Regions from separate parts of the Homo sapiens genome. Here region 1 is linked to region 2. Evidence: fine-mapped expression QTL. Tissue or cell type: aorta. Region 2 holds a variant in brackets; the other region holds the start of a gene. All regions are shown on one strand. Distances are from middle to middle.

Region 1 (8,103 bases), 340 kb after region 2:
GTTTCACCTCTGGTCACCCAAATGTGTGGGAGTTTCTCCCCACCAACCACCAGTTCTTCAGTAGAGATCAACTGGGAGTCCTACAATTTAACTCTATTCTGACTCTATCTACCTGGAGAAAGCATCAGATCACACAGGTTAAGGGCTCAGTCCCACAAGACTTCCCCCCAATGTCAGATGCCAATCACAAGTAGTAGGTTGTCACACCTATACTTCTGACCAACTAGCTATAAGTTGGGGGTCCACAACCCCCTTCTCAGGTTCAGTTAATTTGCTAGGTAAGCTCACAGAACCACAGAAAACACTTGCTTATATTTACCAGTTTATTATATTAATGAAGGATGTAATTAGGGACACAGATGAAAAACAGTTGGAAGAGATGCAAAGGGCAGAGAATGTGGAAAGGGATACAGAGCTTCTGTGTCCTCTCTAGATACGCCACCCTCCAGGAACTTTGATTTGCTCAGCAATCTGGAAATTCTACAAACCTTGTCCTTTGGGGGGTTTATGGAGGCCTAATTACACAGCCATGATTAATTACACCATTGGCGATCAAGTCAACCTTCAATCCGTCTCCCCTCCCTGGAGGTTGCAAGGGAGGTGGCACTAAAAGTCCCAACTCTAATCATGCCTTAACAAGCTCATTAGCATACAAAAGACACTCTTAATACCCCAGAGATTCCAAGGATTTTAGGAGTTCTGTGCCAGGAACCAGGGGCAGAGACATATTTCTTATTATATCACAATATCACAGCTTGGTGCACAGAAAATAAAGCAAACAAAAATCAAGACAAGGCAATCATTAACTCTAGGAAAAGCAAAAAGTTACAAGAGGGATGAAATGCCATAAAACACTGCACGGCAAAACAGTGAAAAGTATTTGCAAAGTCTTCTTAGTGCAAACATTGAATTTTTTTTTAATGATGGCACTACTATATTGGGTAGTTGAAAAGAAGAGAAGGCAGTGTGTCTGGAGTAGGGTGAGCAAAGGGAGAATGGTAAGAAAGGAGATCAGAAAGGAAAACAGGAATTAGGTCATGCTGAGGTTTGGATTTTCTTTCCTAAGGGTGCTAGAGAGCCACTGGGGAGTTTTAGACAGGAAACTTGAATGCTCTAACTCATGTTTGAAAATAATAACTTTGGCTCTATTGTGGAGGAAAATATACCATGCAGGGATAAGGTGAAAAGCCAGTAGGCCCGTTGGGTAAGAGGGATAAGAGGCTTCTGCAGAAGAGATTTTTCCTATAATGTGGCCTGGACTGGGAAAGGCACACTTCGGGATGTAAGGAAGTGGGTAGGTGGGAATATACTTAGGAGGTTGGTGGCTTACGGAGTAAAAAGAGGGACACAGGGATGACTTCCTGCATGTCAGCACAAGGCATGTGGAGAAGGCAGAGGAGGTTGTTACTGGGTTCAGGAAGGCTGGGGAGGGAATGATTTGCAACTAGAGAGTCTGGGATCTAGGGTTCTGTTTTGGACTTGTTAGGCCGAGTTGCCCCAGAAAGTACCAAGTAGGCAACTGTGCCAGGGCTCAGGGTACAGACAAGGCTAGGGAGAAACTCAGAATATGCTCAGACTCAACAGGTAGTAATTCCTCCTTTTCTCTTGCCAATGCAAAGAAATGTTTCATTATATGTTTGGCGTTTTATACGGCCTCAATGGTATGATTTGGGGCACTGATTGATTGAAGACTTGATACTGAGAATCTAAGGGTAAACAAGCAGTGAATCCTGGAATATATCACAATAGGTAACCCATTCAAAGTGCTTAGGCCTCCCTGGTTTTCTATTTTGGGTCATATCTGTCTTAAGGAAACACTCTCTCTACCAAAGCTGAACTCATAAAATAGTAAAAGTCCTCCCCCGCCCACACACACAAGAAATAATTTCCCATTATTAGCTGGATTTAATAAACATTTTCTTCCAAAAAAAAAATTTGTCCCTGCTCAGTAGACTTCTCTTTATGTGTACAAAGCACGTGCCAAGTTAAAGACCATGTCAGGCACACTTTGAGACACTTTCCGTTTTTTAAAAAGTTCTTTCTTAATAAACATTCAAAAGGACCAATTTGTTTAAAAGTCTTTCAAAGCACAATTCACTACAGGTCGTAGAGTTCTTTAAACCCTCAGCAGGATTCTTTCTTGACTTTCTCATTGCTTTGTGCAATCTTTGTATTTAATCATTTATCCCCGAATTGGTCTTCGCAGTGTGGCTTTTAACAAGAACTGGGTTTTAGCCACATTACAGTAGACGCGGTGGGGGCGGAGGGCAGCAGTGGCAATCGCAAAATAAAACGTATCATAAAGTGGTAACGGTTCGTGATTTAGGCCAGTTGTTGAAAAATAAATGCCTGTTATATAGAATCACAGAACTTGAGAGCTTGCGGCCAAGGGAAGTCGTTCATCGGTGGACCGACAGCGCCCCGGGCGGCAGAAAGAAGGCGGCGGCGGCGGAGACCCGGGGAAGTTGCCGGATTTTTAAAAAGGCACCTGCTGGGTGAGTCCTCACTGTGCAAACGGGAGCCACAGGTGCCCGATTTTAAGGGGCTACAACTCGGGAAAACCTAAGTCTGTAAAACTAAGTACGTTAAACTAAGTAAGTTCTCGCTGTGCACCAAGTTGATGGGGGCGATTATTTACGGCGGAGAAACTGAGTGGAGGAAGGAGGGAGAATTCCGCTAAAGTTTGCCTGCGACTGACAGCTAGGGAGTGACCTGGAAGCCAGGAAGAGGGGCAGAGAGGAAACTAAAGAAGTAGGTAAGAGAGTCAGTTTATGAAAATAGAGCCTGCTGTGGAGAGCAGCAGGCACACCTGCGGAGGAGGGGGCTGCCTCACCTGCGGGGCCGCTGCGCGCCCCCCTAAGTGTGTTAGCGGGGGAGGCGGGGCTGGAAAGGAAACCTGGTGAAGGGCTGGCCCGGAGCCTGGGGTGGGGATATTCACTGCGGGATAGGGCCAGCAAGAGGACCCGACACGCATCGTCCCGAGTGACACGTGTAAATGTCAAGATACAGAGACATCTGCAAATGTCACCCAAGAGGGTGAGGACGGGGGAGCGGTCCCGAGGCTGTGCCCTCCGGGGCAGGTACTGGCTCCTGTGGGGCTGCGGGCCAAGTGTCGCCCTTCCCCAAGGAATTGGCACCTGGGGGGGGGGGGTCGGTCTCGCCGCGCTGGAAGCGCAAGCCCCGGGGCTCCGGAGATGCGCCGGGGCGCGTCGCCCCTCGGGGCAGCCCTGGACCTCGGCGCGCCCAGGCGCAGCGTGCGGTGCCCTCGGCGGGGCGGGCAGCGAGCCGCCCTAGTTCGGCGACTTACCTCGGGCCTCGCAGGGCGCGAGCAGAGCACCGGCCAGGGCGAGCAGGAGGGCGCGGGCGGGGGACACGGGCAGCGGGCGCGCTGCCATCGTCGCCGGCCTTCAGTGCAGCAGCTCTCGGGCCCGGCGGCGAGCGCTGCACCATCCCACGCGGGCGCCGAGCCGGGGCCGGGCGTCGCGACCGGAGGGATTTCCTGCCTCGGCGAGTCAGCTCCGGAGCCCTCGCGCAGCGCCCGCGCCGCCGCTGAGCTCTTCTAGCCTTTCATTTTTAAAAAAGTTTCCCCCCGTGTGTGTGCGTGCGTGCGCGCGCGCGCGCCGTTCTGGCACAAGCCAGCCTTGACCGTTGCAATAAATGAGCAAACTGTCCGAGTTGGCCCGGGGACTAGGAAGAGCGTTAGTGAGAGAAGGCAGGCCTGTGAAATGGATCCACGGCCAGCAGTCACCGTTCTTATTACCGCGGAACAAATTATTGTCTCCCCCGCACCCCCGCCAGTTGGCGGCGTCCCGCGGGTCCTAGAGACCGCTCGGGTCCCCCCGCCAGGGTCCCGCCCCGAGCCGCGGCTCGCTCACCCCCGAGGGTGGGCGGCTCAGACGTGGCTCAGTGGCGTCCGGGCGCCCGGAGCGCACACGTCCCCGCCCCAGGATGATGTGGCCGCAGGGCCCGGGGCGCCCGGCTGCCAAGCGCACATGCGGCGGCACGGTCCAGCTTTTCAGGCTGAAGCTGGAAACGATGACTCTGCTACTCGCTCCCCGGCTCTCTGGGAACCCTCGGAGTGCGGGTCAGGTCTCCACCGCGGCCCACAGCCCGGCGCGCGACCCCGCCCGGCCCTAAGCGCCCAAAGGGGCATCTCTCGCCCGAGAAACAAGCTTGGACTCGCAGGCACAAGACACCTGGGCGTTACTTTTGATCAACAGTGTTAGGTTTTACGTTGATAGATTGGCTCACGTTTCCATTCCATGACCTGGACCCAGAAAAGGGTGTACAGTGACGTTCCCCAAACTTTCCTGATTGTAAGAAGCACCTGGGTTGGCTTGTTAAAAAGATTCCCGGGCGCCCTCCTACGCTTTCAGAATGAGACTCTCCAGGCTGTGAGGCCAGGGGAGCCCAGGGTGTTTGGAGAAACACCAATGAAAGAATGGTGCGCCTTGCCTTCTCATCCTTGTTCCGGGCTGACCCCACCTCTTCAGCCTCGCTCGGCCCTCAGGGAGACCATGAAAAGCAGCAGCGAGGGGGCCCGCACAGACAGAAATGGCTGGAGCTATGGAGGATGGCTGATGCCCACCCTGCGGGTTACCATGATTCCCAACCTTGGGGACTTATTAGAATAGTAAGAGTTAAAGACATTGCCAGCCCCAGACACCAGTTAACTCAGTTTCCCACAATGCGTGGAGCTCAATAGTTTTCAAAGCCTCAGGTGATTCTACTGTGCTGCTCAGACCTAGGACCACCTGCAGAAATTCCATCCTGGTCCTGCGACCTCGCACCGATTCCTGACGGAGCACCCACTCCTAGGAGGCGGTTATCCAGCATTTGAGGAAGCTGCCTTCCATACCATCTCTTCCCACTGCAGAGGAGTTTTCTCAGGAGTTCCCTCCCACGGCAGGTTTTGCAGTGTTCCCAAAACCCAGGTCGATCCTCCTAACAAGGTGCAGGACTTTCTTTTTAAAAAACCTTAGTGGGAAGCACAGGCTCTCCAGCCCCCTTCCCAATGCTGCCATATCTCAGTACCAGATCTGGAAACCAGGCCTGGTTCAAGCCCTGTGTCATATCTAACCGTACTACCAACCAGCGTTGCAGTGTACTTCTTTTGTTCATTCATTCAGTCAATCTACATGAGCAACCCTATGTTAGAACTTGGGAAACTAAACGAGAAAGCCTCTTGCCTTCAAAGACTTTTCTTTCTGATCAAACTGATAAATCATCATTATTGGACAGTGTGAGCTAGTTACTTAACCTAGTTAATAATGATTAGGCTTGTTTACTGATATGGTTTGGCTGTGTCCCCACCCAAATCTCATCTTGAATTCCCATGTGTTGTGGGAGGGACCTGGTGGGAGGTAATTGAATCATGGGGGCAGGTCTTTCCTGTGCTGTTCTCATGGTAGTGGATAAGTCTCAAAAGATCTGATGGTTTTAAAAAGAGGAGTTCCCCTCCACAAGCTCTCTCTCACTTTCTGCCTGCTACCATCCATGTAAGACATGACTTGCCCCTTCATGTCTTCTGCCCTAGCCATGTGGAAATGTAGGTCCATTAAACGTTTTTCCTGTATAATTTTACCCAGTCTTGTGTATGTCTTTATCAGCAGCACGAAAACAGACTATTTACTACTTCATAATTCATTACATACCTCGTATAATCGGAGTATTGTGCTAACGTCTTTCACCTGCATTATTTCATTTTTTAAGTCCTGAATATACAGATGAGGAAACTGCAGCATAGAGATGTAGCTTTCCCACCACCACACAGTGAAGTAGGTCAGAGCCCAACCTCAGATCTGTTAAAGATAAAGCCTGTTTCTTTAAGGCTGAGTTCCAACCTTCAGTTTTAGCAGCTGTTAAGTGAAGGTAAAATACAAACCTCCCAGGTGGTTGTGAGCACCAGGTGAAATAATGCAATGTCTCCCAACCCACCTGATCCCTGGGATGTCTGTTAAGAATTCAATTCCTCTGGCGTTTGCACTGGAGATTCTCATTAGAAAGGTCTGGGAAGGACAAGTTTTAGCAAGTACTTAGGTGATCCTGATACTTGTGGCCCATAGAACTTCAGACACATCGACGCAAGAGAATTAAAAATTGTTTTCTTCCAGCTCAAAGGGCCAGATTTGCTTGCAGATGAGCCCAGCCACTGGCCTCTCGGATCCTTCTGACTGGTTAAATGGTTTATTCACAATGGACCTAACATGTGCTGTGCACTGGGCTGGGGGCCTTGTATACATTTTCTCTTAATGATCAATTTATTTTCGCTCTTTCATATTCAATTGTTAATGTTGACTGTAAAAGTCCAATTTCTTTTAAACCTGGATGTTGCAAAGCTTCCTCCAAAGAACTAAATGTGCCCCAAGACTGTCCTTGATTTGTTTCTGACTGAACGAAAGAAAACAGCCATTGCAGAGGAAAAATGAAGAAAAATAAAATCCTGGCTGCAAGCTCTGGATTTCAACCCTGTAATTCACCATCTCTGTGAAGCAAGCGGCCTGGGCTGACACTGTCTCCACAAAGCCTTCATAGACATCAATAACAGCCAGCTAAGGCAAAGAGCAAATCCTGCGTCTGGCAGATGGTCTGTCTTTGGATGGAAATTCTGCCTCCTCATTCACAGGAAATGGAAGCCGACATCACATTCAATACTGGATTGTTAGGTAATGGTGTGGGGTCAGAGGCCAGGATCTACACACGAAAATTTCAGATAGATGGCTGGTTGTCCCTTCCTTTCTGGAAGAATTGACCTTTGCAATACTGTTTCCTGTGTGCTATTTTCGTTTAACAGCCTGGGCATTCACAACGAACAGGGCACTTATTTCTTACCCAAGCTCATGTAAGCTCAATCTGCTCTGAGTACAAGCAGATGAAAAACGGAGACAAACTTTCCTAAGCCAGGAATTTACAGGCAGCCACTGCTAATTTCTGCAGTAAGTGAAGAGCCGGCCTCCTTGCAGAGTGACCTATTGACAGAACTTCAGACACAGGCTTGCAGAACAGCTTTCCTCTCTCCAAGCACAGTTCCCAAGGCTTACTCCAAACGTAAACAAATGTGATCACCCCAAGATTAAGATTCTTGGAAATCATTTTTATTCTATCTCTTGGAGAGATGAAAACTCCTGCTCCTCTCGGCGTATTATAATAACATGTAGTCCATTTTTCTTTTCCTAGATCTCTCACTTCAAGAATCCATGCCTTCACCTCCTCAGAAACCTGCCCCCAGTGAACCTCTTCTGGGCAGATTAAACCCTCTTGTCTCTGATGCTTTCATTATTGCACAGAATTAGCACTTAAGTAGCACTAAACGCCAAAGAAAGAATGCTCCTGGGGCTGGGGACAAGGAACTCGGGGATGCGCTGTGTCACAAGAGACAGGAAAGGTCACCCCATCTATATTCATCTATGTCACCTACCCACTGACCAGTCAACTTCTCCAACCAAGTGACAGTCATACTTCACTTAACAAAGATACATTCTAAGAAATGCATCATTAGGCAGTTTTGTCGCTGTGTGAACATCACAGAGTGTACTCACACATCTAGGTGGTACCGCCTACTACACATCTAGGTTTTATGGTATAACCTGTTGCTCCTAGGCTACGAACCTGTATGGCACATGACTCCACTGAATACTGTAGGGAATGGTACAGCAAAAAGGCAGAAAGGTACAGTAAAAATACAGTGGAAAAGATTTTAAAAAATGGTACACCCGGATAGAGAAGCTCCATTATAATTTTATGGGAGCATCCTTACAAGTGCTCAAGTGCGTACCACGTGATTGACCAAAATGTCATTTGGTGACTCATGACTGTACTGTGATGGGAAACTTATTATGCCCCTCCCTACACACCCCCAGATTCCATTTTACGTACCCCAAGTGACTGACAGTACTAAGAGAAACAGACACCTCCTGGAGCAGCAGCAGCTGCTGAGACAGCCTCCTAGACCAGGTGCTTATCTCTCCCGCCATCAGCGGGGGCAGGCTGAGTGCAAAGCCAGCACACAGCGAAAGGAAAAGGGGAATCTCAAAAACAAACATGAACTATGACAAGAATGACCAAACATTTGAGGATACTTCATTTAAGAAATAGGGCTGGCCG
Region 2 (8,103 bases):
TTTTTCTTCCATTAAAAGATACAGGAGAGGGCGAGGTTGGGCACGGTTGCTCACTCCTGTAATACCAGCACTTTGGGAGGCCGAGGCAGGCAGAACACGAGGTCAGGAGATCGAGACTCTCCTGGAAAACATGGTGAAACCCTGTCTCTACTGAAAATACAAAAATTAGCTGGGTGTGGTGGCACGTGCCTGTAATTCCAGCTTCTTGGGAGGCCGAGGCAGGAGAATCGCTTGAACCAGGGAGTTGGAGGTTGCAGTGAGCCGAGATCATGCTACTGCACTCCAGTCTGGCGACAGAGAGAGATTCCGTCTCAAAAAAAAAAAAAAAAAAAAAAAAAAGATATAGGGGAGGGCGAGACAGATTACTCCTTATCCCAGGGCCTGGATAGACATAGATGGAGACTCCAAGAATCCAGGGTTGAAGAGTCTTTTAAGGGAGAGGTTGAAATATGGGAACTTTTTCCAGATACTGACTGACAAGTAGTATCATCAATGACATAAACCATCAGCAACGAGGCTCAGCAGAGGAAAACAGACGGCTCCTTGAATTTATCAAGCTGTTGTAGTGGTAGGCATTTCCTAAGTGATACTGGGCTGGCTGAAAGAACTCAGCCTCATTTCAAATGTGCATAATATACTCCAGACTCAAGGGATGCAGCCCTTTATCTCCTATAAGATTTTACAAATCCGTGGAGTCAAAGGAAAAAGAGTCTAACGTTCAAATGGCAGAAGAATTTTTAATCAAGTAGAACCTTCCTATTGAGGAGGTCACCATCCGACCCCAACAGCTCATATAAGGGCAAGAGGCATAGCCTTTGGGAGAAGCGCTGGCCCAAGCAGCACTGAGGGATTCCCACTCGGTGGGTGCGAATCCTGGCCAAGGGGATGGTCACATTCCAGCTGATAAAAGAACCTGTCCTGGATTACAGTGAACACAGCAGGACCCTCATGGGAATCACTGCGGATCCCTGAGCCCTCAGAGAACCAAGGTTCTGAGATCAAAGCACATTTCATCTTGAACGTGGAAAACAAATTTGATGATAAATTGAGCCCTTGGAATTGGAATGTCCAGATGCACCTGGCCCTGGCTGTTCAGGCTACAGTTTAAAAAAAAGGTGTCAGTCAGAATGGCTGTTATTAAAAAGTCAAAAAACAACAGATGCTGGCAAGGTTGTGGAGAAAAAGGAACACTTATATACTGCTGGTGGAGTGTAAATTAGTTCAACCATTGTGGAAAACAGTGCAGTCGTTCCTCAAAGGCCTAAAACAGAAATTACCATTTGACCCAGCCAACCCACTACTGGGTAATACCCAAAGAAATATAAATCATTCTATCATAAAGACACATGCACTCATATGTTCATTGCAGCACTACTCACAATAGCAAAGACATGGACTCAAACTAAACGTCCATCAATGATAGACTGGATAAAGAAAATGTGGTACATATACACCATGGAATACTATGCAGCCATAAAAAAGAATGAGATCATGTCCTTTGCAGGAACATGGATGGAACTGGAGGCTGTTTTCATAAGCAAATTAATTCAGGAACAGAAAACCAACTACCACATGTTCTCACTTATAAGTAGGAGCTAAATGATGAGAACACATAGGCACATACAGGGGAACAAAACACACTGGGCCTATCAGAGAGTAGAGGGTGAATGAGGGAGAGGATCAGGAAGAATAACTAATGGGTACTAGGCTTAGTATCTGAGTGACAAAATAATCTGTACCACAAGCCCCCATGACACAAGTTTACCTGTATAACAAACCTGCACATGTACCCCTGAACCTAAAAGTTAAAAGACAAAATATGATTTGAGCCTAAAAATATCAGATGTCATTTTAATGTCAAGGCCTGAATATGAGCAAATGTGGGTAAGGAGACATTCAGAATGTATAAGAAGATTCATGTACGATCCTATTTCTCAAGGAAAAAGGATTTGTGGCTCAGGGTGTGTGGGGCCAAAGACAGGAGAGTGGAGGCAACACCTGTCCTCAGGATTCTGTCTCTGCCTCTGTCTTTTCTTGCCTGTGTGACCTCATGTTAGTGAGTGATTTCAAGACCATGTTGAAAATGGAGTCCTAAGAAGCATTTGGGGGTTGTTTCATCCTTTTCTTAAAACATTGTATTCGCTTGCTGTCATTTAGTCTGATGAGAAAGTTTGGTGAAAAAAAAAAAATCAGTATGGCAGAGCATGAAAATCTCAAATTCTTTTTTTCTTCCAAAAAAAAAAAAAGTTTGACTTTATTTCTAAACCTCAAAATATCTCCATGTATCTTTCTCCCTGTTCTCTGAAAGGACTCCCCTCTGGTTTTGAGTTTCTTCCACTCCTTTCCCTCTCCTATTCTTCTCTCTACAGGGTTCTAAAAATACATCTGATTTCCCATTCTGTTCAGGTGAGGACAAGCCCCCAAGAACTCTGTGCTAAAAACCAAGCCACATATCCAAAACCAATAGAATATGCGATTGTATTTCTTTCCAAAGTAATTTCCTGGCTAGAAGTCCTCATGCCACCTGGAGTGTAGAAATGACTTATTAACACTCAAGGCCTAAGAAGACAGGCTTGATTTTTCCCCAATCTGCATTTTAATAGTCAGACCAGGATCTAGGATTTATTGACTTTTTCTTCTAGGTGCATCTGAGAAGAAGTAGATTTAGGAAAACCAACAAACCTTGTAACCCAGTTCTTGCTGTTTTTCAATGGGCCCTGTTCCAGACTTACATTTATGATCCAAGCAAACATTTGGGTCTTACTTTTCCATCTGCACACTTTGTGCCTGCAAGCACAAGCCCTGGGTCCGGCATGTCATCGCCCAAGTACACGTGGGTCCCCCGGCACAGAATCCGGCCTCCTTGCTGCAGGGGGATGTTTGTTTCTATGGAAACGGCATTGGTACCAATGACTGGCCGGCTGGCACCTCCTTGACACTGGATTTTTCCACATTTAGCATCTCTGGAAGGGTAAGAACAAACAATTCCCAAGGAGAAACCATTTGGAACCAACCCTATGCAATGTGGGAAGGTCAGAGCAAAGACTTTGCCAGGATGTCTGGATTCCATACCTCATCTCGCATTTGGCAAAGGAACTCTTCGAGACTTTGCCACAGTTGCCATAAGGATCACCTGCAGAATTGACTCTCTCAAAGCAGATCCCAGGGGCAGGTTTAGCACCTGAAACAGAAGCAGAACTGCATTTTCATCTCCTGCAGGTGATTTTTTTTTTTTCATGGCTGTAGGCCTCTCAAATGGTTACGGGGAGACGTGCTCAAAGCAATCACACCCAGTGTCTGTCCCGACTCATGGTGGGAGCTGGCCAGGGGAAGCCTAGGGTGTCAGCAGCTCGCATCCTCTCTTGACTCGGCCTCTGGCAGAGCACATGTTCCAATGCTTACTCTTCCTTAGGTCTGCTCTCTGGGCTTGTGGCATGTGTGGCCTCTCAGGAAATGAGGCCTGGCTGTGGAATGAGATCTGATCCAGGGCAGAAAGGAGGTGGCTGGCTGGCTGGCTGGCTGGCTGGCTGGCTGGCTGGCTGGCTGCAGAGAAGGGGAAGTTTGCTCTCTTTAACAACATCCCACACAATTCCGGTGAGGAAATGCAAGCCAGGGCAGGCTCCAAAGGAGCAATGAAGATATCTTCTATGATATTTTTAGTCCCATAAAGCTCCCTATAAGAGAAAGTACTACCTTCTTTTAATACCTTCTATTTTATTTGCAAGGCAGAGATTTCTCTCAGAGGCCATGGAGTCATAAACCCTGGTAATCCCTATGTACAACATGACGGTTCCCAGCAAAGAGGGTCATGGCAGCCAGAGAGCTCAGAAATGGCCATTTTTAGCACATCTTCCAGCCAC[G/A]GAGAGAGCACATATAATCAGCATTTGCAGCCAAAGTTCTGGAGGACTCCTGAATCCTGGACATAGTGATGTCTGTTGAAGACTATTGAGCAAGTCAAGAAAACATGCCACATTCTTTAGAACAAACCATGCCCTGCGGCGTGGTCCCTTTTCTCTCCCTGATTGGTGTCCTGTTTGGCACTTTATCTCACATCGCTTCTGATGGCCAGGATGCCGACACTCCAGAGCCTCACTCTGACTCCTGCCCTTCTCTGCTCTCCACCCTGGGGAGGCTTTGCTTTCCAAGGTGACAACGGATTTATTTAAGATACCTCGTCCCAGGGAACAGAAGATGTTCTTCTTACTAAAAACATCCCCCTTCGTTAGCCTGCACCTGATCCCTTCTCATCAGCTACTAGCAGACATGATCATCTCATTCAACACACACGTGCCACACCACCTTGCCATCATTTGATGTGAACAGTGTGCTCAGCGCTCCAATCTCTGCAATGAGCCAGCCTTGCACCTCTCCTTTTCTCATTTCTTTTATAAGCCATGTTAGAGAAGCCTCTGCAATCTCTTTTTTCAGGGGCATTAGCCCAGACTGGACACAATTCTCTGTCATGGAGAAAGATGAGGTCCCTAGCTCCTCACATCACATGCCCTTTCCTTCCATCTGTTCCACATCTGCCTTGCTCACAGTAGGATGACACCACCGACACACTCAGCTCCTATTAGGGACCTGATTTGTCCGCATTCTGCCTTCTTTTTCTCTTTCGTCTATCTGTCAGAGCAGGGAAGGATGGGGAGGGAGAGCCTCAGTGTGGAACCTGCACTTTGTGCTTAATTTAATCCTGTTTGGCAGCACTTTTGATCAAAGTACTGGGATCTGATTGATCAAAGCAGTTTGGAAAAACTGGCATCTAGAATAGTAACAATTCAACAATTGTTTGTGTTTTTGCACACACCCTATGTATTTGTTGCTTGCCTAACTCTATCTCCCTCCCAACCATCCTTCTTTCCCTCTTTTTCCTCCCTCCTTCCCTTCCTACTTCCTTCCATCATCCATTTATATACCCATCTATCCATTCATCCATCCATCCACTCGTCCATCCAGCCAGCCACCCAGCCACCCGTCCATCCATCCGTCCAGCCAGCCACCCGTCCATCCACCCGTCCATCCATCCATCCATCCAGCCAGCCAGCCACCCATCCATCCATCCATCCATCCATCCATCCATCCATCCATCCATCCATCCATCCAGCCAGCCAGCCACCTGTCCATCCATCCAGCCAGCCACCCGTCCATCCATCCAGCCAGCCAGCCGGCCACCCATCCATCCAGCCAGCCAGCCAGCCAGCCATCATGTTGCAGGCTTCAATCAGACACATGTATTTATTCAGCACCTACTATCTTCCAGACATTGGGAGTATAAGAGGGACCAAACTGGACAAACCTCCTGCTTGCTTGAAAATTGCAAGGAGACACAGAAAAAAGACCCAAATGATTATGTTCCTCTAAAGCCCAGTGTTAGGGAATGCTATGAAGGTAGAAACAGAGTAGGAGGGTTCAGGGGACTGTTGCTTTTAAAGGCAGGCTGGTCAAGGAAGACCTCTTAGAGAAGACATCATGAGCTGAATCCTACCATTTAATCCTACAAGGTAGGTCTCATTATTCCATTTTATGGACAAGAAAATTAGCACATCAGAGGTTAAATATATTTCTCAGATTCACATAGGTAACGAAGGCAGGATCATCTAAGGGTGAAGCCAGGCTTCTGGGCTGTTCCCTCCTGTGCTCCATCCTCACAGGTGCTGGACCCTGCACTGGGTCTCAGGTGTAGAGAGCAGATTAAGACCTGGCCCTGCAGCCCAAGCAACAACAGGTTCAGTGGATGTGGGGTGTGCTGCTGCAGCTGCCTGTGGAAGGGCTAAGAAAATGGGGCAGGAAATGGCTTTGTTGCTTCTTTCCCTACTTCATAAGGCTAGGACTCGGAAATACAAGCAGCTCCTAGTGACTGCTTAGCTCCTAGGAAATGGGTGGGTGGAGTTGACATCACTGTGCCATTGCACGCAATGCTATTCTGATGTCCTAGATTCTGCTACCTTTATTATAAAGTAATTTCTTTCTTGGGAATTGTGACCACTTAAAAAATACATATACCATGACACAATTCAAGTATGTCAGTTGATACATTTGTTTTCCTTATAGGGAGCTCTAAAGAGACTTTGGGCAGTTTCAGACACGTGAGCTTACAAACAGCTCAACAGCAGCCTGGGAGGAGAGTTGGACAAGGTTGGACTGGGGAGTACAGAAGGATAAAAACAAAGAGAGGAAGGGGGAGAGAGAGAGGACGAGAAAGAGACCAACCTCAACAGGGATTGAAGACGCTGCAAATGTACTGGCAAAGCAAAGGGGAAGCTTGATACGTGAATACCAGATAAAGGGCTATCGTTATGATAGGAAGTCAAGCAAAGGCATGGAAACAGTGTGTAATCAAGTATAAAAGCATTCTGGAAGTGAAAACACTGGATCTCTACTTGGGAATCCAAAGCTGAAACACACTGAGCCTTCTGGGTCAGAGTGTGACGTGGTTTGGATCTGTGTCCCCACCAAGTCTCATGTAGAATTATAATTCCCAATGTTGGAGGTAGGACCTGGTAGGAGGCGATTGGATCATGGGGGCAGTTTCTCTTGAATGGTTTAGCACCATCACCTTGGTGCTATTCTTGGGATAGTGAGTTGAGATCTGGTCGTTTAAAAGTGTGTGGCACCTCCCTTTTCCTTCTCTCTCTTGCTCCTGCTCCGGCCGCGTGATGTGCCTGCTTCTCCTTCACCTTCTGCCATGATTGGAAGCTTTCTGAGGCCTCCCCAGAAGCAGAAGCTACTCTGCTTCCTGTAAAGCCTGCAGAACCAAGAACCAATTAAACCTTTTTTCTTTATAAATTACCCAGTCTCAGGTATTTATTTATTTATAGCAGTGTGAGAACAGACTAATACAGGGTGTGCTTATGATTGTAATGCCCCAAATGCTGGTGGAGCAGCACAGCTCAGAAAACCAGGTGTGTGTAAGATGCAATGCCTTGTTTACCAATAACGCAGAAGCATGGTACACGCCCCAGCAGAAGGCCACCTGGCATTTCAGGAGCACCGCCATTCTCCCAAAGACAAACCCTCAGAAAGGCTTGTGGCCAATTCGAATATGTGAATTTTTACCAACACAGATGACACAGTCAAGCATCATCTTATAATATGCTGTCAATTAACTTAATGAGAAACAGTTAAAAGAATCACATTTTAATTTAGATTGTCTTAAAAAAAAAACCTCTCCCACACCGTGGAACAATTTTACTGAGATGACGTTTCCTTTGGTCTCAGTCTTTTTATTTTTTTTGAGAGAGAGTTTCGCTCTTGTTGCCCAGGCTCGAGTGCAATGGTGTGATCTCGGCTCACTGCAACCTCTGCCTCCCGGGTTCAAGCTATTCTCCTGCCTCAGCCTCTCATTTAGCTGGAATTACAGGTGCCCACCACCACGACTGGCTAATATTTTGTATTTTTAGTAGAGATGGGGTTTCACCATGTTGGCCAGGGTGGTCTCGAACTCCTGACCTCAGGTGATTCACCCACCTCAGCCTCCCAAAATGCTGGGATTACAGGCGTGAGCCACCGTACCTGGCCTGGTCTCAGTCTTCTTGCTTTCCATGGCACATTCCCTGCACTTCCGGCTTTCTCAAGATGCTGACATTTTTTCTTCTGTTATGTTATCACTGGAAATCTTGTTTCTAGGTTCAAGTACCCACTCTTCCAACACTTTTTAATAGAGAAAGTGAGCACTTTCTCTATTAGCCCAGTGGGTGTATATTCATAACCTCCACAACTGAACCACCCACTCTATTGCTTATGAAAGTGAACCCTTAAAAGCTCTTTTACCAGAATAACCAAAATGGGATGAAGTCACAGCCGAAGAATAATATTTAAGCATGTGATAGATGCACCTGCCTTTTTTTAAACCTGATTTTGTCAGGCAGCCTTGATGAACCTGCGTGGATGCAGGATGATGAGCGCCAAAGCGCCTTCCCACCTGCTCTGCGACATCCAAAAGGTGTGGCTGAGAGAGTGACAGGTCAGTGGTTAGCGATTCTTTTTGCTGGCTACTTTCAGGGGGAAGCCTTGTTTTATAGCTGGGCATGTATGGGGTCTAAGAAAAATACCTAATGCCTATCAGTCTTCAGCCTTTTTAGATTGCCCCCTCCTGTCTGACTG

Direction of the effects. Positions count from the first base shown, and alleles are read on the strand shown. Sizes are in standard deviations (SD) of each study's normalised expression.
For the expression in aorta of the gene that starts at base 3,727 in region 1, G is the high allele of the variant in region 2 and A is the other (small effect, 0.26 SD a copy in GTEx).

Evidence for each region. PIP is the estimated chance that this variant, and not a neighbour inherited with it, causes the effect.
Region 1: ADAM12 starts here. The variant in region 2 is fine-mapped to the expression of ADAM12 in aorta (GTEx, PIP above 0.99).

Annotation. Positions count from the first base shown.
Region 1 is chr10:126,384,751-126,392,853 of GRCh38, forward strand. ADAM12 (ADAM metallopeptidase domain 12) reads right to left here and starts at 3,727. Exons shown (of 23, transcript NM_001288973.2): 1 at 3,308-3,727. The coding sequence starts at 3,395.
Region 2 is chr10:126,046,489-126,054,591 of GRCh38, forward strand. ADAM12 (ADAM metallopeptidase domain 12) reads right to left here. Exons shown (of 23, transcript NM_001288973.2): 15 at 3,073-3,181; 16 at 2,765-2,963. Among named protein-coding and RNA genes, the nearest start is that of FANK1-AS1, 77 kb to the left of the region's middle. RefSeq lists an enhancer at 2,810-3,310. The variant G/A (reference allele first, on the strand shown) is at 3,861.